Homo sapiens: one gene and its partner. The protein of the gene in region 2 purifies or fractionates together with the protein of the main gene of each other region. This does not show direct contact. Each region holds a gene or a part of one and is shown on either strand. Other genes may lie near its edges.

The links. Proteins that work in one complex are often made in the same cells at the same time.
Region 1: the proteins of TRIM35 (region 2) and MKS1 purify together in Homo sapiens (affinity purification with mass spectrometry; 2 studies listed by BioGRID and IntAct, with this or other methods). This does not show direct contact.

Annotation. Positions count from the first base shown.
Region 1 is NC_000017.11:58,212,756-58,216,255, reverse strand, and holds part of MKS1 (tectonic-like complex member MKS1), read left to right. Parts: intron 1-12; coding exon 13-168; intron 169-1,357; exon of another isoform or gene 1,358-1,417; coding exon 1,418-1,515; intron 1,516-1,868; coding exon 1,869-1,997; intron 1,998-2,386; coding exon 2,387-2,491; intron 2,492-3,165; coding exon 3,166-3,274; intron 3,275-3,500. UniProt on the Homo sapiens protein: Component of the tectonic-like complex, a complex localized at the transition zone of primary cilia and acting as a barrier that prevents diffusion of transmembrane proteins between the cilia and plasma membranes.
Region 2 is NC_000008.11:27,297,773-27,301,272, reverse strand, and holds part of TRIM35 (E3 ubiquitin-protein ligase TRIM35), read left to right. Parts: intron 1-2,713; coding exon 2,714-2,809; intron 2,810-3,500. UniProt on the Homo sapiens protein: E3 ubiquitin-protein ligase that participates in multiple biological processes including cell death, glucose metabolism, and in particular, the innate immune response.

The DNA.
Region 1 (3,500 bases), on a different chromosome or scaffold from region 2:
TGGTAACCTCAGTTTGAAGTAGATCTGTACCAAAATGAAACAGCCTGTCAGAGTCCTTTGGATTATCAGTACCGTCAGGAGATCCTGAAGCTGGAGAATTCGGGTGGCAAGAAAAACCGACGAATCTTTACCTACACTGACTCTGATAGATACACCAATTTGGAGGAGGTATTGTTCTTTCTAGGGTCTCATAGCTTCCATCTTTGCTTCCTCTAGCTTTTTTGCCTCACTGAGTTCTGTGTGTTATGTCAGAGCCTAGTAAGGGGAGACAAGTAGCCTGTCTAGGAACTGCTGTGAGCTGCTGCTGCTGGCAGCCAGCCTGGAATAGAATGGGCACAGTCTACAGGTGGTGAGGCTGCTGCTCCCTTCTCTGCCTGCTAGAGGGCCTGGGGGAGCTGCCAGTATCTCTGATTATATGCTTGCAGAGTGCATACTGGGAGAAGTAACCACTGGGCTTGACTTCCTCCATGCATCATGAAAAAAGACAGGTAGTGGAGTCTGGAACAATATAGATAAAATTCATCAGGGGATTCAGCCCAAACTCTGAGTATATGGGTTTGAAGAGGAATTCAGTATAGCTATGGAAAATGGCTTATGTCCTCAATTTGCCTATGACAAAAATACCCTTGTGACCTTGTTTTACATTTTCTTCAGTCACTGCATTTCAGTTGCTTCTGTCTTCTCAGTAAGATTTTAAGCTCCTCGAGGGTAGAGCCTATTTTTTTTATTTTTGTCTATGACTCTGTAGGTCTCTGCAAGGAACAGGTATTCAATAAATGTTTTTGAAAGATTGACGTGCTTTCATTATTAGAGCTGTGGATTGATAACATTAGCTGGGCATGGTGGCATGTACCTGTAGTCCCGGCTACGTGGGAAGCTGAGGCGGGAGGATCACTTGAGCCAAGGAGTTCAAGGTTGCAGTGAGCTATGATAGCACCACTGCACTGCAGCCTGGGTGAGACCCTGTCTCTTAAAAAAATATATAAATTAAATAAAATTTGGGTTGTCTGTTTTGGAAAAGCAAATGAAAATGCAGTTAGTGCTCAGTTACCATGTGAGGATTTCCCACAAAATGCTTGTATCCCATTTGGCATTTTCTAACCACCTTGTTAACTTCAACATCTACCAAGCACACTAACCCAACTTTTTGTTGGTTTGTGCTCAGAGAATGCAGACTGATTTTAATATTAACATAAATAACTCCTTTTTAAAATCCAAAGGCAAACCATGATGTGGTAGAAATCTTCTTTGGGTTGTTTGGCTACTGCTCCCTCCGTTAGCATGTATAATTGTGAGGTGGCGGAACCTGTGGGGTTCAGGTCCTGGATGAGGTTTCAGGAGGAAGACTTCCCTTCAGGTACTTGGCTCCATGTGGCCCTGACCAGATGGCGTACACAGGGCTGCTTGCTTTTCCCAGCACTGTCAGAGAATGACCACTGCAGCCAGCGAGGTGCCTTCATTCTTGGTCGAGCGAATGGCAAATGTCAGGCGTCGCCGGCAGGACAGGCGAGGGATGTGAGTGCGGGCATGGGATGGGGGACAAGCTTTTACTTTTTATTTCCTAAAGTTGGGTAGTTTTGCATTTTTATCAGTGGTTATATATAGTATTCAAGTATTACTTTGTAATTAATTTAAAAAATAAATATAAAAATATAAAATATCTTCCTCACTCTTCATGTGGACATTTTTCCAAAGTGCCTCAGAGAGAGGGAAGGGATGTCATTTCTGTTTGTCAAATATTTTGGCTCTTAAAAAACAAAACAAAACAGTATGTCCACTAGCTCAAACTTCCCATTCTGAAGTGGCTCTCCACTGGGGTGCTCCATTGGGGTGTGCCAGGGAAGTGACCTTTCTGTGGTGTCTCCCAGGGAGGGCGGCATCCTCAAGTCACGCATCGTCACCTGGGAGCCCTCAGAAGAGTTTGTCAGGAACAACCACGTCATTAACACCCCTCTTCAGACAATGCACATCATGGCAGACCTGGGGCCCTATAAAAAGTGAGTGGCGCTTCTCACTGCCAGCTTAGAGCCTCATCCTTTTCTCCTCTCACCAGCTCTCCCCTTCCTGTTATTATCATCCTAGGTTATAGGGGAGGGAGGGACTTTTTCTTCCTTCTCTTCTTAGTTATGAGTGAAGCTTCTCACTGCCAACTCAGATCCTCATCTTCTTCTCCTCTCACCAGCTATCCCCTTCCTGTTATCATCCTGGGTTATAGGAGAGGAAGGGACTTTTTCTTCCTTTTTTTTCTTAGTTGTACTTGGAAGAAAGTTTTACCATGACAGCTCTCCCTATAGCCTCTGTTCTCTCCCCTGCAGTGGGCTCAGTATCTCTTCTTGTTTCCCTGAAGGACCATTGACCTCAACCTTGGTGTTTTCCTGATTTCTAGGCTTGGCTATAAGAAGTATGAACATGTCCTGTGTACTCTGAAGGTGGATAGCAATGGTGTGATCACAGTAAAGCCTGACTTCACGGGCCTCAAAGGACCCTACAGGTGAGGAGAGGAAGAAAGGGGTAGTGGAGACTGGCATTCCTTCCCTTGGTTGCACTTTTTGTCCCTAGTCAACTAGACTGTCAGAAAGTCCTTCATCTGTTCTAACTTTTACATTCCCAGGCAATGGTTCGTATTCTGTTCCAAGTCATAGGGCCTTAGAAAACCAGGGACTCCTTTCTCAGAAAATGTGCAACTGCACCAATTTGAAAGGGATCACTTCAGTGGTACAGTTAAATGACAGTGATTCTCTGTGCTGCTGAATGTAGGACCTGACCAGAACAGAGTGGGGTGAACTCAGCCAGGCTTTTCCTGTGGGCTGACTGTTCCTCATCTCTGTATCTTGGAAATGACAGAAATGTAAATTAGAAATTATCTGGCCCAACCTGTCCATTTTTCAGGTGAGAGAACTGGGTGGCAGGAATGTTGTGCCTTACAGTTTGACTGTAACTTCAAGCCAGAAATGGGCCCAGAACCTATACTTTCTGAGTCTAGTCTGGTGCCCTCTCTGCTTTACCCTTTTGTTTCTCTCTCCTGGTCGTCAATACAGCCACTTTTATCATCATATACTTTAGTGAGGTGTATGGCCCCTGATCGCTCATCCCTGGGCTGGGAGCTATCCCAGGGCCCATCTCTCATTATTAGAGTTGCTCCTTTCTGTGGTTTTGACCTTACAGGATTGAGACGGAGGGGGAGAAGCAGGAGCTGTGGAAATATACGATCGACAATGTTTCCCCCCACGCACAGCCGGAGGAGGAGGAGCGGGAACGGCGAGTGTTCAAGGATGTAAGCGCAAGTTCATTCCAAGTATCCAAGGGATGAGCCTCAGTGCCTGGAGCTGAGACCATTTCTGAACTTGATGTCAGCAGTTGCTCGGGAAAAGCCTTGCCCTTCATGGCCCCTTCTGACTTAGGCAGCATTGCTGACATATCAGACAGAAGTTTTTGATCATATTATAATAATAACAATAACCATTTATTTGAGCATTTACCATGTTCTGTGCTAGGTACTT
Region 2 (3,500 bases):
GGACTCACAGTGCTTAACCTTATAGGGAGAATTCGAATTAAATAATTGAATTAAATAGAATGTTTGTAAAGTGCATAATTTAGTGCCTTGTGTCTAGTACATGCTTAATAGTAACTGCTTGCTAGCAATAGTAATATAATTGTTGGTTAGTCTCATCAGCTGACATCTCAGAGAAGGGCCATTTTAGGATTGGTCTTTTCTGAAGGAAACCAGAACTCTCCAAGTGATTGAAAAGTTTGAGAAGATCAAGGGACTATCCCCTTCCCATCCTTATTGTCCCATAAATTCCTAAGGGCCAGGGTTGAAGGGCAGGGGCTGAACTGTGTTGTTTTGGGGCCTGCACACCTTTGGGTAATGCGTATGGACAGCTGCTTCACTCCTGTCACTTAACTAATTTGGCAAATCACTAAATTTTCCTTTTGAACTGTATTACATGATTTTGTATCAAAAATCTCATTCTATAAAATAAAACATTGGAATGACATTTCAGTGGTTTTGTGGGGGCACTCATGCAAATTAGAGATGATATACTACAGAAAACAAAGTTTAAAAATCTTAAATATTGTCACTTAAGATTAAAAGATCAAAATGAGTTGAAAATAAAACAGAACTGCAGAAAATGAAATCAGTAACCATTTTGTTTTCTGTAGTGAAAGACTTAAAGGAATGGGCTACTGAGTGGGACAAATGGGCTAGTTCTCTATTTCCTAGCAAATTGCCCCAAAACTTAGTGCCTTAAAACAAACATTAATTATCTTTGAGTTTCTTTGGGTCAGGAATTGGGCCTGCCTTAGCTCTGGGTGCCTCTGCCTCAAGGTGTCTCATGAGGGGCTGCAGTCAGGGTTCTGTGGGCTAGTTCTAACCAATGGGCTAGTTCTCTATTTCCTAGCAAATTGCCCAAAACTTAGTGCCTTAAAACAAACATTTATTATCTTTGAGTTTCTGTGGGTCAGGAATTGGGCCTGCCTTAGCTCTGGGTGCCTCTGCCTCAAGGTCTGTCATGAGGGGCTGTAGGTATGGAGCTGTGGTCTCATCTGAAGGCTCAGCTAGGGCAGGATCCTTATTTACACTCACATTTGTAGTTGTTGGCAGGATTCAGGTCTTCACGGGCTGTTAGCCTGAGAGCCTGAGTCCCTCACTGGCTGTAGGTCAGAAGCCACTCTCAGTTTCTTGCCCCAGCAGTCACTCCCAGGGCAAATTACCACATGGGCAGCTGGCTACCATCCCAGTGAGCAAGCTAGAGAGAGGAAGGCAGGGTGTACACAGCCTTTGTCGCCTAACCTCAGAGGTGACTTAGTATCACTTGCCACATTCTTTTGGTTAGAAACAAGTCACCCACAGAGGAGGGGATTTCACAAGAGCATGAGTATCAGGAGGTGAGGGTCACTGGGGCCACTTTAGAGGCTGCCTGCCTGAATCTGTCCTTTGCCCCATAAGGAGTCATGTCCCTCCCACATGCAAAATGCACTGGCCCTCTCCCAAGCTCTCCAAACATCTCATCCCTTTACAGCATCAGCCCAAAGTCCAGATTTGTCATCTAAATCAGGTCCAGATGGGAATGAGGCTTTGGGCGACACATCTGTATAATTTATTGCTGCATATCCAGTCACCCCGACATTTAGCAGCTTAAAACACTCTCATCTCACAGGAGGGAGGGATCACTGGGTGCTGTCTCAGCAGCTGCCTCCATAGCTGTCCAGGTTCACGTCCTTCCACATACTAGCTGTGTGCCCTTGGGCTGGTCATTTCCCTTCTGTGCCTCACTTTCTCATCTATAAATGGGGCCAATAATATTACTTATCTACTAGGGAGAAGTAATGATTAAATGACATAATTTCTCAAGTAATTGGTGTTGTCCCTGGCACAGAGTAAGTACTGAATAAATGATAACCATTTATAATTATTTGAATTATTTTTCTTAAGAAAAAACTTGAGAAGCTTTCTGAGAATGTAGATCGAAAAGGATAATGAGGGAGAAAAAATGATAGGCCTAAGATACAAGAGGCAGGAATCCAACCTAAAACACTCTAGTGGTTCTTCAAGTTGTCCAAGGACATCAGAAACAATCATTAAAGTTTAAGAAACAAAAACTACTAAACCAAAAGTATTTGTGCCTGCTGATTAAAGTATTCCGTGCGATACAAGCAGTGTTAGAATGTCAGGATGCAGGAGGGGTATGGAGGGGCATGTTGGGCATGTTGAGGTGAGGCCTCATGGGAGGTAACTGAACCCCGTGGGAAATGACTGGCTCCACCCCCATTGTCAGTCACCTCACATTAGAGATTGCAGACCCATTCAGTTTAGGAAACTGCAGAGGGAACCTATGACCACACTGTCTGCAGTTGTCCACACAGCTCAGGGATTCAGACCCAGCATGAACCAGCTTTTGGCCCACATGGGACACTCTTCTGGCCTGTGCTGTGACCAACATGAGAGAGAGCAGCTTGCTTCTTCTCAGCCCCATCTCCCAGTCTGTACCAGGCTGGGCTACAGGATGTCTGAGGGCTCTTTATCCCATGGATGTCTGATTCAGGATCAGGACCTTACTTACCATTTGTGCCCAGAGCACTTGGCATGGATGGGGTTAGGCAAATGCAGTTGAGTTACACTTGTGTTGAAGTGGAGTCCCAGTTGTAAATGTGATGTGTCTGCCCTCTCTGCCCAGCCTCCAGCCCTAACCTGTCTTCCTCCCTCTCTCTCATTCCCATGTCAGGCCAAGTGCAGGAACATGGAGCATGCACTGCGGGAGAAGGCCAAGGCCTTCTGGGCCATGCGGCGCTCCTATGAGGCCATCGCCAAGCACAATCAGGTGAGCGAACGATGGGGCCAAGTGGGAAGATTGGGTCCACTCAGGGCAGTCTGGGGAGGAGTGAAGATGTGTCAGCCGTGGCTTTGGCTCACATAACCCGCTGGGTAGAGGTCGGCTGCCTTACCTCTGATGGTCCTGTGCAGCCACGTCCTGGATGCTGACTGTGGCTTCTCTGCCTTGGCCCCTCTAAAGACCCAGGCGTGGTCATGCCAGCAGCCACAGGAGTGACTTAAAAAGCTACCAACACCATCTGCACTATGGCACATGCATCATATCACTGCCACCTGTGTGTTCAATGATGACCTGGGACTCATGTACTTTCTTGTTTTCTTTCAGTTCCCACATCCACTCCATCAGCAATCCTATTCCCCTATCTCCAAAGTATGTTATTTCTGTAAAACCCTCCACCTTTTGGTCCAGGTCATCATCATCTCTCACTGGGCCTCCTGCCTAGGGCCTCATGCTTTCATTCTTGTGCATTCTCCTTTCCATGGACTGGGGTGATCGTTTAGAAAAAAACACCAGCCGTGCCCCTCCTCTGCTTAAAACTGCCAGTGGCTTCCAGTCACCCTCAGTACCACCCAGATTCCTTACCATGGCCTCCAAGGCCATCTCCTGACCCTGCCTATCCTCAACCTCATTTACTTCTCTGCCTCACCTTCTTTCTGTCCCTTAAGCAAACTAAGTCTTC